2 linked regions of the Homo sapiens genome follow. The protein of the gene in region 2 interacts with the protein of the main gene of each other region in a pairwise test. Each region holds a gene or a part of one and is shown on either strand. Other genes may lie near its edges. The genes, in order: TNIK and MYT1L.

Region 1 (7,282 bases), on a different chromosome or scaffold from region 2:
TTGGTCCCACTGTCCTCATAGGCTTATGGCATTTTTATTCTTTTCTTGTCATTTTAATGAGTCTTTGGAAGAAAGTAGATATAAATGTTCAAACTGGAGCCTAGGACTTTATTCTGAATGCACTCTTTCAATTTCATCAATCTGGCTTTTAAAAAATATAAATAATGCTGAAGGTTCCAGCAACATCTGAAGCTGGTCACACATGCATCATCAATCTGATAGAAAAAACTAGGTGAAACCTAACTAAGTAAGTCTGATTGAGTAAACAGACCAAACTTATAATTCCATGTCTTGAGACTTACCAACTTTATAATGTATACAGCCTTCCAAGTCCCCAACAGTGATCCAGCCTTGTTTCTTTTCTACTTCTGGGTCATTATGTAGTATTCTGTTTCTTAACCATGAAAGATAGTAAACTCGTAGCTTATTCTTCTTTCCTGTTGAAATAATAGAGGTTTAATTTCAAATTGCTGTGACAGCTCTCACTTTTTCCTTCCCCACCTCCATTTATTTCTAATTTATTTTATTTACGTGTGTGTGTGTGTGTATGAAGGCATAATAACCAGTGTCCCCAGCACTTTGTCATTAAAATGGTGTTTCTGCCAGAACTTATGGTTAAAATAGCTCTACGTGTTTTAGACACATCACAGAATTACAATGTCTTTTATCTTCAGGTGGTTTCTTATTTGAGCATGTGCTCTTACTCTCTCTTCCCAATGCAAAGCAGTGTCTGCTGAACTTAGTAAGAGCTAACTCTTCAACAGAGTGATCAGAGTTCCAGAACATTCTAGATCAATCACATGAAGAAGTGTTGGCAACTGGGCATTTTGGCACCTGCCTTTCCTTCACCGTATAACCTAATAACAAACAAGAGGATAATATGGGTTCAGAAAATTATACTGGGCAGGTTTATGGTGCTGAAGTCACTGAAAGGAATACTGAACAAAAATAGGAAAAAAAGGATGCAAACTTGAAAACTTAAATTTCCGTTTGGTAAAGTGATCTTGGAATAAAGAATTCATAGGATGATAAAATATTTAGACAATATTGAAGAGTACACAAGTAGCAAAACTTGATATACTCCATTTGATGATTTGCACCAGATAAAATGTCCATTGGGATGACTCTTCCTAACTAATGATAAATTTAGCTCTATGGGTTTTATTTTTTGGATACTTATTTTTCTTTATCTTAGGCTTTAAAAATGTTTTATTTATTTATTTATTTATTTTTTTTTGAGACATGAGTTTCACTTTTGTCGCCAAGGCCGGAGTCCAGTGGCATGATCTCGGCTCACTGCAACCTCTGCTTCCTGGGTTCAAGCGATTCTCCTGCCTCAGCCTCCCAAGTAGCTAGGATTACAGGTGCCGCTCCCAGCATGCTCAGCTAATTTTTATATTTTTAGTAGAGATGGGGTTTCACCATGTTGGCCAGGCTGGTCTGGAATTCCTGACCTCAAATGATCCGCCCGCCTCGGCCTCTCCCAAAAAAAATGTTTTATATTTTATAGATGAATATATACCAGCAGAAGAGAACTTAGTAAAGCATTACACATGCATTTGACAGGAGAGCACATTCATCACCTAAACTAAGGGAATCATTGTGTGGTCAGTATTCAATTTTGTAACCAAAGGCCTAGAATCCACATTGATCACAGTAGCTAGGATGGACACGAGAGCCAGTGTTTCCTCCTTTCTATGCCAATATGAATCCAAGGTTAGTTCAAGAATCTTTTGCTCCTATTTTCATTTTCTCCTTTCCCTATCTGTGCCTCATGAGAAAAGGAAACTCTTACACTGTTAAGAATGAAGATGTGCCACTAACAACATAATGAAGTCTGAATGTGAATTTTCTGGTTGCATTCCCACTTTTGGCAGATATGCAGTTTTCATTTTGATTTGGTAGTATAGCAATCAGGACAGCAATTAACCAGAACAAAAGACTACATGGGATTAAACTCAAATGGCAATACAAAAGGAATTTACCTGGTTAACCTTATTTGGGGAGAATAAAAAGAGATGAAACTGAGCATTCAGTGGAAAGGTAAAAGAAAGAGGAAGTTTAGTGACAAGCAAAAGCATTTTGTCAAAATGGAAGTACAGCTGAACTTTGAGGAAAGTTCAAACCAGCATCCCTGTGTTGTCTCTTCGTGAAACAATGGCTGAGCATAAATCCATGTTCTCAAACTTGGCTGTACAATGGAAACACATCAGAAACTATGAACGCTCCTGATGCCTAAACCCCACCCCCAGAGATTCTGACTCTGGTCTGGGGGTGCAGCCTAGATTTTCACATCTCCCTAGGTGATTATAAAGTGCAGTAGCAAGTTGGTTCCATACTAGATGGAATGAGAGGGGAAGTGACGGGTGTTACTCGTTAAACTCCTTCAAATACCAAAAAGAAAAAAAACTTTCAACAAAACTACCCTCTTTTAGGTTGCATTTTTAACTTGTTACAAGGCCTTCACTTTAGTCTCCATCTTTTTTTTTTTTTCCTATATAAGGCTCTTTTTGGGAATCAGAAAGCTACAGAGCATAGCAGTAATGATTCCCACACTCAAATCTTTTTGTAGACTTGATCACCCAGTGTGCCAGCTGCACCTGCCAAAACATCAGTGGGCTATAAGCAAGAGAATTTTTGAGGGAAGAGACCAAGAAATTTCTGCTTACTAAATGTCCCTCTAGGAAGCCTGCATTTTGATATTCTGTCTGTATGTGGTAATAACTGGAGTGCAGAAACCTTAAAAACATCCGAAGATCCTTGCTGAGTCCTGACAGAGGTAAAGAGCTATAAATATATAGCCTTTGTGGTATGTCTCTGCCTAATTCAGATTTAATGCAGAGGTGAGAGACTTCTTTTTGGAGGTCAGAATTCCCAGTGTTACAAAATGTGGGCAATCTCACTCTGGCTATACTGCTATACTTTATTGTGTTGTTTGTTAGCTGGGAAGGGCAGAACTAACTGTTTCTGCAGAAATGAGGTGGATCCCTTTCCCGCTGTATGGACCTGGGGGACTCATCATCTTAGTAACATACCTGAAATTGTCACAAGGACATTCAGTCCCTCTAGCACATCCATCTGCTGAAATCGCCTCCGGTTGATCAGATTATAGACTTTGCCTTGCCCACTTCGGTCCAAAAGCATCAGGCCATTTTCAGTCCCCACCAGAAGGTTTACACCTGTAAATTTAAGAAGCACCCTAAGACTGACTTTTCATGAACTTTAATCTTCTGCATCGAGAGTCCCTATAAAATTTAAGAAACTGTGACTTGTAAATATACACTAATGGGCAAGTAGGTAAATATAAACTAATGAATGTAGAAGCTCTGACATAATAATTAAATCATTGTACTTCTGGTAATGAAATTACAGTTTTCTTTTATAAAGTTAGCAGCATTCATACATCTAGTTATTTACTACCTAATGCAGAGAGTCCTTGTCAATAGGAGCCTTAGGCACAGATGTGAAGCTAGCATAATTTGCCTTTATTCCCTGCCTGGAAAAACCACTTCTTTCTTGGCTCTCCCTATAAATCACTTCTCTTCTTCCCCAAGATTCACCCCCACCCCTATGCAGTGGTCTCTAGCCTACCCACCTTCAATATACAGTGGAATTTCCATTTCCATACTCCAATGGAAGAAAGGCCCTTCCTCCTTCTTGAATCAAAATGTAACTATCTTATGCCCCATACCCTCAAGTTTTTGCTCTTTTTTAGGGAAATGATAAACCCATTCAAGAGAAGTGTTAATAGCTGGAGAGTCACAGACATACTCACTTTAAGGGACTTCTCAGGTCTCTAAATCTAGTGCAGCCCAACACCCATGCAGTAATCCCTATTACAGAAGCACAGGCACATAAGTGGCTTTGTCTGGGTAGTTGTAATCCTAAAAATTTATGGCTAGGGAAATGTATCATCCACCCCTCAACACACACACACATTGAGAGGCTCATTGTGCAGTGTACTTTATTCATGAACATGTAACTCTCTAACTTCTCTTACGTCTTGTACTTCTATCTTCTGATCAACACAAATGTCTGCTTTTTTGTCCATATATTAATCCTTTCAGTATTAAATGTGGCTATCTTGTTCTCTTCTGTCTCTTCTCCAGAGGACAGAGCCTCTATCATGAAATGGTTCCTAGGCTTCACACTCTTCCCCGCTAACATCTCAAATGCTTTCAGCCTTTTAAAATTATGGTTCCCCAATCCAAGCCTAGTATTTTCAGTGGGTACACAGGGGACATGTCCTTCCTTAATCTGTATGAGATGTTTATAGTAACACAGACCAAGACTTTGATAGAATCTCATCATGCCTCTCCTGAGTTTGAGGTCAGCTAAAACCTGCAGATCTTTTTCACGAGAAAATGCAGATTGATGTTTTAAACTAAAAGGGAAAGTTCATTAAATTATTTGTTGTTCTTTTCAAGTTTTATCTTGTTATTGCTAGGGTTATGACCTTTAGTAATTCACAAAAATACTCTGGGCTGATTTTTCAGCTTGAAATAAAGGTTTATGCCATTATTTATGCTCATATTCCCCTTGCAGGATGTGGTATGGATCATGGAGAATGAACGTGGGGTATATCACAAAGTGCCAGACACAAATCGCCTCTGATTGATCACATTATAGGCTTTGCTTTGCCCACTCAATGTATTCAGTGGTAGCTAGTTCTCTTGTTGGCTTTAGCCTATCACTATTGTGTGACAAGGTTGCTCTGAATCTAATCTCGTCTTCCTGGCTAGTAGCGTATCAGCTATTTCTACATATAAAACTCCTTTTGGTTTCTCCTGAGGTCAAGATAGTCCCAAGTTAGGTCTCTAATACCCAGGATTCAACCAGTGTTCTTTTGATGACAAGATCCACAGGCTTTTAATGTTTGAGGGTCAGTTCATTAATGAGTGGTTATTTAAAAAAAAAAAAAAAAAAAGCACCAACATACCCCACAGAGCTGCACAAAGTATTTCTGAGTTGAATCGTTTCTTGTATTTTCTGATTTCTGGTGTGTCGCTATGAGGCCGAATGTTGGTTGGGTTTACATTTACCACCGAAATCTTTCTTGCTTCATTGAGTTTGGCCTGTTCTTGCCTAAGAAGTTCGCTAGTAAACAGAGCTTTGAGAAAAAGAATCAGAGAAGTCAGTGACATCTTAAAAGATAACTTATGGAGATGGGGCTTCAAAACACTATGATTTCTCCTTGTTTGGTTTGAATTATAGTAAAGGCAAGGAAACTCTGAAACTCTCCTTATTTTACACTTTTTTTTTGTTTTAGTAGAATAAAGTCTAAGTCATTCATCAAAGGAATCTTTTATTCATTAGAAAAACAGGCTTATAGACACTACTTGCAGAGTCTAGAAAGTCCCAAATTAAATACACCATCCCCACTCTTGTATATAGGCAAAAAAGATCTACTTTTTAAAATTGCAGTTTATCAGTTGAAAAACTGTCCTAAGCTGACTTTGATGATTAATTACTTGAAGAAGATTAGAAAGCAAGACTCCTTTAAATCAGCCTGATCTTTGTGGTGGGAAGCACACACCTAGAACTCAACACAATGTACCATACACTTATTAAGTGCCTAATGTGTGTAAAACATTGTACCCAGAAATTGTTTTGGGGAAACATTTAGTTATGTTCAGAGATCACTGAGGAACAGCTTTTCCTAGGGTCCCTATGTACCCCTGGGTCTACCAGAAACGAAATAGAAGAGATGGGAAAAAAAATGGAAAGTAATACATTTGTTTTAGGAGTCCTACAGAAATAATAATTTTAAAAAGTCTTCCTTTTAAGATAGGACCTAAGCAGTAATCAGCTTAACTACTGAACTGAGGATTAATTTCCTTATCAGGTCATACCAGAAAGGAAGACGAAGCTGTTTTTTAAACACAGGGCCCTTCTTGCTTACCTGCGGCTGATGATTCCTCATCCTCTTCATCTTCATCAGTGGGAGACGTCTGGTATACTCTGGGGTCCACAAAGGGGGTGAAGGAGGCTTTGGTGCTGCTCCCCATGCCATACTAATCAATAAGCAAGAAGATTAAGAAGAGCAGATAAATACTGCAGGAATAACAATGCTAACAATACTGTGCTTGGGCTGTAAAACGATCACAGATTCTTCAAGGTATTCAGGTGTTCACATTCTAGTGCTCTAGTCAGTGCGTGCCTGTCTCCAGCTTCTTCTGGTATTGGTTACTCACTAGTCATTGTGCATTCGTAGGACTTCATTAATTATCAGACTGCAAGAATTGTAGTGAGAAAATTACATTTTGGACCACATGTGGCACCTTAAAATCTGTAAGATCACTGTGGTGACAGAGCTTACCTCTCCCTTTCAGTAAAAGCAACCTCCTATATTGACTACTTGATCAATATGAAAAGCTGACATAATTGGCAATAAACTAAGTAAGGAAGCCTATACAGCAGTACTTTATCCTGAACAGAGTCAAACCAAGGGGCTTTCTCTTGGGGAGGAGAGCTTTGAGCCCTTCTACTCTGGCCTGGTGATGCAAGTGAATTGGTGTTGGCTCCAAAAGCTTTAAAATCCTCAATTCAGGGATGATTTTATGCTGGAATTGAAGATATTTCCTTCCCACGATAGTTTCCTTAAAAGAATAATTACATTTACATCCTTATTTAGGGACTTCATGAGGATATTACGTTTGTGAGCAATGTACCTTGAAGGCTTACTTTAAAAAATGAATCTTGGGCTTGAATGGCACCATGAAAACATGATGTCAGAAGGAGATGAGGGAACAGTAAACTCAATATCAGGGTTTTATGTCACAATATTCTAAATTTGAGTTTTGCTGAATAAGCTGCAATGTCAGTCATGTCCATTTCTTCTATTCTTGTCCTTTAACATCATAAACACATCTGTATTCAACATAATAAGCACATCTTTTTTGGATAAATATCTTTAACTAAAGGTTATTTCACTTTAGTTTTACTGTTAGGTTTTTATTTAAAAATAAAACCACCATCCAAGACCTCTAAACATATAAGGAGAAAACCACAAAGATCTAATCTGATTTAATTCAAGATTTTCTTTCCATCCTATGAAATCAAAACCATTTCATCCTCCTCAAGGTTGAATTCCCCCTACCAAATAGAACACTTTCACGTACATGTTCTCTTTTGATCTTTGGAAGATGTCTGTGAAAGAGGTAGGGCAGGCACTAACATTTCCACATAGAGCTGGGGCAGCAGCAGAATTTGAACCAGGGTTCAATCTTATGGTGTCCTCCTTGGTACCAAGAGAGGTGTTCAGGCAGAAAATGCCCACACA
Region 2 (8,098 bases):
TTAAAAATTATAAATGTAAAGTATTTATAAAAGCAGCTGAACAAATAATCAGATTATTAACTCAATTTTTTAATTTTAAGTATAATTGTAACAAATAGAAAAACTTTACAAATCTTTGAAATTGCATAATCACTTATTTCTTTTCCCTAATCTATTAAACATTGACACAGAAAGCAGACAGAAAACATCAGACAGTGAAATAATTGGGTATATTCAAGAGTAAGGTACAAAATAGAAACATTTTCAAGAGAGTAAAAAATAAATAAATAAATTAGGTGAAAAACATAACAGGGACAGTGAAAACAGCATATTAAAGAAGTCTCATTCTCTGAAACTATCCACATAGTCCTAAGGTCATGCTTTGACAGCTTTTATAACCCCGAAGAAGACTAGGTACTCATATTCCTTTAATAATTTTTGTACACCACTCATATGTGGTCACAAATCATTGGGCCTTTACCTTGATCTCAGCTTCTAACACAAATTTGTGAAATTGGCATAAGTTCTGCTGTTGGATGCAAGTTTAACTCAAGAGAAGTTGAAATTTGTGTGTCATGCATACTTTCTACCTTACTGTGACACCAGATAGTCCTGGTGCATCTTTTCAAAGATGAATTTTATTAATAATTACATGTATTTGGATAAAATTTTCCAGTTGAAAAGTAATAATGTTTACAATTTTCCAACCCACAACTATACATATATACAAGTAATTTTTAACATATTGATATGTTTGAATATTTGGAAATAGAGTAAAATATGTGTATAATGGCAGATGGAAAGTCTTTACTAAATAAAAATGTTCAAGTATAGATATCTTTGCTGCCACCATCTTCAAAACATCCAAATGTGACCATGAAGGCTTCTCCTACTTCTACCTCAACTAGCACAATCATTAAGGTGATGAAAGTGAGCCATTTTCACATTGCCAATAAACTAGGAGGAAGTCAGTCACTGTTGAATGCAATCGCTATCAGCTGCGGACAGCTCCTGGTGCTGAAAGGGAAGGCAGAGAAGCCTGCTCACAATAGCTCACTCCACCAGCCTTTGAAAAATCACAGCAAAACTGAATGAGGTGGCAAGTGCTCAGCCTGAATAGCACTGTCTACAGAACAATGGCAGCCAACTCTAAATCCTACTATAATCACATTAATGAGATTAATCAGTGAATTAGCAGCAGTCAAATGTCAGGGAGGCAAGGAAGAATCCAACCAAGATTGGTAATTAACTTTTTGTGGGTGGGGGTGGGGAGGAGAGAAAAATCAACTGTGCTATCTCATAGGTTTTTTTAGATGTTGATAATTTTGATTCACGAATCTGAAGACTATATGTACAGATCAAAAGACAACAACATAATCCTTCATATTATAATATAGATCCAGATCTCATATTACTGATTCTTATAGTCCTCTGAGAAAGCTGATGTCACTTTAAATAATCTTCATAATCTATCAGAATTTTATTGTTTTAAATTCTTTAAATGCACAATTAATATTTAAAATAAACTTATTTCTCTGAAAATCAAGCTAAAATATAAAGAAATATGGCTGATTAAAAGCAGAAGGATTATATAACAACTGTTATTGTTTATGAAAAGTGTATGATAGTATGGTAAGAGTTTTCAAAGTGCAATCAAGTAAAGTACCATCACACACACACATCAGTAGTGGTCTATGTTAGTTAATAAAGAAAATTTATCACTCAAGTATAACTTTAAGGAGACTTTTAAGCAATTAACTTACTGCATTTGAGGTGATAGAATCATACATGTTCTTTTAGGTCAATCAGAAAAAACAAACTTCCTTTTTTTCTGGAATGTTTCTCTTAGTAGCATTTATAACTTACAATCAACACTTTGGATTCAAAGTTCTTGAGAGGTGAAAACTTATAGGAATGCAATGCTGTTTTTTTTTTTGAAAAGGAATATTTTATAAAACTCTTTTCTTTTAAAAATAATTACATTTTTATCTGTATGGGAGACATGACTTTATTATTTTTAAAGCTACATGACACTAAATGAAGATGAACAATTAGAAAGACCCTCATATGCCAGTAAGGGTGGTTTTGGGATGCTTTGGTCTATGACGTTAATTTTGTTTAGTAGAAAATATAAACATTTGAACAAAAAGGCTCTTATATAAAATAGTTTTACTCTAAGTAACTTAGAAATTATTTAGCTTATATAGCTTTGATGGTACAAGAAATTGTCATGGTTAATACTAAATTCAAAATCTGTTCTCTATATTTTATATAGCTAACTTTCATATAAATATTTACATATATATTTTTGCTTTATTCAGATCTATCTTAAAACTAAAGTGTAGAGTTTAATCTTTTAGTTTATTAATTTAGGTGTTACAAAAAGACATATTTCTGTTATAAATAACATTTTCTTTCATTATTATGAACTTCAAACATTTAAGTTAAATTTAAAAATCTTTATTTGAGTTTCTCCACTTAAACAATATAAATCAACTTTCTTCTTACCATCAGGTAAATTCATCCAAAATAGCTAACATTTTAATTGCCTTTGCATAAAATGATGTGCTTCATTTGTAATGTAAAGTAATCCAGTAAAGTCTCTGGGAAGTTTTTGTTTCAGTATCCTCTTATCCTCCAAACACCATACATGCACCCCGTTTTGTTTTTGTTTCTTTTTTTCTTAATAAACAACATCACAGTTAAGTCATGCAACCTAATACCCATTTTAGTTTAAAGACAGATTTTTTTGTGGATTACAAAGCCTCCAGTCCAGGAACATTTCAGCTACCAGCCATGCTGTAAAAATAACTTTAAAAAGGAGCAGACAATGGAATAGCAGCCTCAGCCCTTGAGCTACGGTAAAACACATCCTGCTCACTAAGTTCCCCGAAAAATTAACCTAACGAACATCACGTACCTCACAATGACCACAACCGCTCACAAGCGAAAGACAAGTTCAATTTTGGTAACTGTGCTGGCTCAAAATACACAGACAGGGAAGAAAACCCTGTTCCACCACAAGTTTGAAAGGATGATGAGACACATGCATGCCACCAAGACGCAGAAAAGGTGGCTTTTTGTCTTCAGTGAGTATGGATATCATAACCCATAGTCCAGGGAATGAAAAAATTAAAATGCACCCACCAACAATGAGCAAAAAACCCGGGGTGCTTCAACAAGACTGCAGGGAAAAGCTCTCTCACTGTTTAGTGTGCAGTAGCTTAGGGAAAAAAAAAATGTCGCCCGGGCAGGAATGACAAATGCAGCGCGATAGGCTCGCAGGCCTCAGGGATCTGTTTGACTTCCACACACCCCCATGCACACGCTCCCACTCATCCTCTCCTAGGCTTTTTTTTTTTTCCACATTTTTTTTTCACAAGCTCCAAATCCCCGGCATATGACCTTCTGTTAAATAGATAAAAAAAAAAATTGCTTATCAGTCATGCAAATGAGGCTGAATTCATTTTCCACAACAGATGGCCTCATAGATAATGATGATGGAAGAGAGAAAATTGAATGTCTCTCACAAGGTGGCCATGGCAACCGAGAGCAGAATAATATCAATAATAAACTCACTGCATAATAAGGTTGTCAGTCCTACAAATCAAAGTCTCCAGCTAAATCAGGTATACCACCCCAGCTAGTTACCAGGTAAATAGTACACACACACACACACACACACACACACACACACACTTCCACAGAGTGGCTTGAAATCTTTCATGGTCACTGTAAAATGTGTACGTGTGTGTGTCTGTTGGTGGCAAGAAGGGGTTGGGGGAGAGAATAGTTGGATAATGAAATGACAATGTGACTTTTTTCTTTTCCTTTCCTTTCATTATGTTTTCTGCAATAGACTCGGTTTCATGCAGGACCTTCTAACTAGCCATATTGAAATCGGGATGCGGTGCTGAAGGCTTTCTCTCCTCCCTCTGCCTCCGCGCTCTCGCTCTGATGTGCTGCATTGATGCAATAGCAGCTCGCCTCAGGCTTCCACCTTGGCTCCCAGGGGGACATCCTGCAAAATGAATCAGCAGCCATCCTGAGCAGGCTGATTAAAATGAAAATGGCAAGGCACATGTCTGGGCGGAACTGGAGCTCAGCTTTGCTGCTTGTCTGGCAAGCATGCTCAATATAGCTCTTGCTAATAATGGCTTACTGCCTTTCATTTTTTAAAAAGGTATCACCCTTTTCCCCCTTCACTGACTGGTGTTGTCTGTGTGTGTGTGTGTGGTGTGTGTGTGTGTGTGCACGTATGTGTGCGTGCATGTCGCGGGGGGAAACGAGAATGGATGGTTCTATTCTTCTAATTTTCTGCTGCTCACATGCAGACTGCCTGCCTGACAGCACCATTATTTTAACACTGAACTTACTTCAGCTTTTCTTTTGGGACAGGGTGGGGGGGCGGTTGATAAGTCTTGGGGCAGAAGGGCTAGTTTTAAAATCAAGCTGCCTAAAAGGCCCAGACAAGATTTTTACACTCCAGATTCAATAATTTCTAACCAAATCTGAAGCAACAGACCTCGAGAGAACTCCGATGCTCTGCTTCACAGGCTCACAGTTGGACATGCTGAAACACAGCCTATGAAGAAACCTATTTCTGTTTCGAGCATTTGCAACCAGCCTGTTACTGTATCCTAGATATTATGCAACACAGAGAATTAAAACAGAGAAAGCTACTAGCTAATAAAATAATCGAACACAATTGAAAAAATAAATCTTGGATATTTTGTTGTTTAAAATTCTCAGGCATAGCTTCAAGATTGCCCTCAAATAAGCTTTACTTTGCAGCACCTCTGCCGAGTATTCCAGGGTTTTTCAAGGCATTCTGGAAATTAGACCATTATCACCTCTCAAAAAAATGGTTGAAAAATTAGAACGAATAATTTTTCTAAACTCATTTTACTCTACTTCTCCTATACATCTTATTCTATGTTATAAACAGTCTTTAAATTTTGCTAAATTGTCAGTTTTGCTTTCCTTTGGTAACAGATGCTTGATTTTTGTATAAAACTATCTATCTACTTATTTTTGTCTTTGTAATTCCTGTTTCTGAGACGTGATTTTTTTTTCTTCTGAGCTCTAGCCCTGTTGCTGCAGTGTGAATCAGAAATCAATAGCGCTGCCCTAATGGAGACTCCACTCGGCACGCGGCAAGGCAGCTGCAGTCTCCTCTCTCTCTTTCTCTCTCTCTCTTGCACACACACACACACACACACACACGGAACTAATGACGTCTGTGCAGCTTTTTCAGCTGATTGGGCACCACATCGGATGTTCTGTGGAGCAAAGAATAGGAGTCATTTACAGTCGGCGGAAAAAAAATGGGAGCATATATCCTTCTGTGTGTAAGACACTGATCCTGAGCTCCCCAGGCAAGCAGCATGTGGGTAAGGACGGTTCTTCGTGTTGTGGTCACCACGGGGTAAAGAGCGCCTCCAAAATGATTATAGAACTGGAACTGCAGTACAGTGGGAGTATTTGTCCATTTTGTAAAGGACAAAGCATTCCTCTAAAAAAAAAGTGAGCACAATAAAATTCCCACGCAAATGCGAGTGTTTAGGTCAAATCGTGACCTCCTGGGTATTATTTAGGCGTTTACATATACATTATATTATTACTTCCAAGGAATTCCAAATGTACTTAAAAAAATAAAGTTCAAATTAAATGAATATATATGTATGTACACACACATATATACACACATATTCATGTAATCATTCCCTATGAGTTTATCATAGTTGTGTTAATAATAAATTCTTAGTTAAAATTCACCCCCACATACCTTACCTTACATTAAGAAGAAAGAAATCTGTAAATAATACTGACACAATATTTTAAATCACAGATTTATACATGTATATGTTTTTCTTACACATTTGTGCATGTCTATGAAAACAGAATGTATATTTGATATGGGGCACCTGCACACACACACGCAGGCACAATATTCTTTCAACAGCTTTGGTTACCTTAAGCTGTAGGTGTAACTCACTGCAATGACAGGCTGCTGTGTTGATAAGCATAGTATCTAATGTTTTACCCTTAAGGTAAGGCATCCCTGGACCCAGCAGCATTAAAGAACACGTCTTCCCTTACCACACTGTCACTGCATTTCATTCAACCTCATCGTGTTGACAACAACTGCCCCAGCCTGAATCGGGCTCCAGTGAAGCATTTGTATTCTTTCCACCCATTCTCTGCATGACTTTTAGAGCTGAGATACCAGCCCTCAAATGGCTCAAGAGAAGAGGAAAAATGAATGAATCATGAAGCCACAGAGCCACAGCAGAGCAACACTGCAGTCTGCATTTTGCAGTTACATTGTAGCTCACTTGATACAGTATGATTTCTTCAAAAATGATATCGAGTACTCTGCAGTAAGGTACCATAAAATCCTTTATGATGTAGAAGAACTGGGGAATACTCAAATGACCATTTAGATTAAAAATCTGTAGTTTGCGATTAAACCGTATAACCAAATGTTTTGTCTCTAAGTATCTGTCACCTGCCTCCTTAAATTATTTCTAATATATTTTGTACTTCATGTATTAGTTTATTCCACATGTTAAAGCCCTTGGTATTAGGAAATACATATGTCATTAATTTTGTTTATTTATGTATGTATTTATTTATTTGTAAGAGAAAAGAAATTGGAACATATTGCCACTTCTAATGGGTATGTCCTCCAATTTAGTACAAAGAAAAAAAGCCCATATAATTTTTTGTGTGGAAATACACACAAGTTATAACCTAGGATGTATTTCCAACTGTAGGATACATATGCTGATCACTTTAACAAACGATAGATTGATCTCTCATAGTATAGAAAGTTCAATCTCTTTCCTTTCTGTTCTCTGGACTCTGGTCTCATCATGAGACCAGAAACAAAAAGGAGCCGTGACGTTTCTTCAGGTGCCATGTTGCACACCAGGTGAGGAGCCGGGAACTAGACCTTCATGGAAAGCATGACGATGACTTCATGACCTTTTCTTCAGAATTATGTCTGCACCAGTGATGGAGAGCTGTGACATCTAAAGGGAGTCTGAGATTAATTTAGGTCTGGAGCAAACAGCATAGAATTGCTATAGTTGGGTAGTAAATTGGTAAAACCTGGAATCCAGATATTACTATATCAGAGTGTACACTATGCAAAATCAGGCACTAACATAGCCCTCCGCCACTGTATTGGGGAACAACTTTCCAAGTTAGCTATATATCAGAGAGGGGGTGGTTTATTAATTTATCAATGATAAGGATGGGGAACCCATTTTCATTACAGGGAATTAGCTTCAACTAATCAAAACATCTATAGAGTGACTCAATAGCAAATAGATAAAAGAAATAAGGTGTTGGTGGTTAATTTGCTAAATAGAATAATGAGAAAGAAATTTAGGAGACATATCATGAAGAAGAGCTGAGGTATCAAGAATAGTTGTGGTCAGATAGAATTTGGTTGTGTAATCTCGGTGAAATGACTGGACCACAAGGGGTAGACCATGAACCTCAGAGCTCATGCGTTATTTTTGCAGCTATCCCAGGCTGACCATTCTATTCAGTATAAACCCATATTAGGGGAGTCTGGAGCAGGTAGAGTTGAAAACATCTGTATTCAGATCACTTGGCCTGATTTTATAGAACTGGTTATTTATTGGCAAAATATATAGATATAAATATGAAATATAATTCTGAGATCTAAAAGAGCATTGAGAATTTAAGATGTAGGTAAGGGGTGCCCAACCCCAGTCCATGTCTCTTAGGGACTGGGCCGCACCACAGGAGGTGAATGGTGGGGAAGTGAGCATTATTGCCTGAGCTCCGACAAGTCAGTGGCGACATTAGACTCTCATGAGAGTGTGATCCCTATAGTGAACTGTGTGTGTGAGGGATCTAGGTTGTGTGCTCCTTATGAAAATCTAATGCCTGATGATCTGAGGTGAAACACCTCCCCACCCCGACACGTTCTGTGGAAAAATTGTCTTCCATGAATGAAACCAGTCCCTGATGCCAAAAAGGTTGGGTACTGCTGGTTTAGATTATTATAACCAGCAAACTAAGATAATCTATAGAAGGTATTTATTCTACTCAAAGTCTATAATTTTATAAAATGTCTGCA

Evidence for each region.
Region 1: the proteins of MYT1L (region 2) and TNIK interact in a two-hybrid assay, tested with the Homo sapiens proteins (2 studies listed by IntAct).

The regions. Positions count from the first base shown.
Region 1 is NC_000003.12:171,079,216-171,086,497, forward strand, and holds part of TNIK (TRAF2 and NCK-interacting protein kinase), read right to left. Parts: intron 6,015-7,282; coding exon 5,903-6,014; intron 5,111-5,902; coding exon 4,940-5,110; intron 3,180-4,939; coding exon 3,036-3,179; intron 438-3,035; coding exon 303-437; intron 1-302. UniProt on the Homo sapiens protein: Serine/threonine kinase that acts as an essential activator of the Wnt signaling pathway. Recruited to promoters of Wnt target genes and required to activate their expression. May act by phosphorylating TCF4/TCF7L2.
Region 2 is NC_000002.12:2,328,068-2,336,165, forward strand, and holds the start of MYT1L (myelin transcription factor 1-like protein), read right to left. Parts: upstream 3,209-8,098; 5' UTR 2,900-3,208; intron 1-2,899. UniProt on the Homo sapiens protein: Transcription factor that plays a key role in neuronal differentiation by specifically repressing expression of non-neuronal genes during neuron differentiation.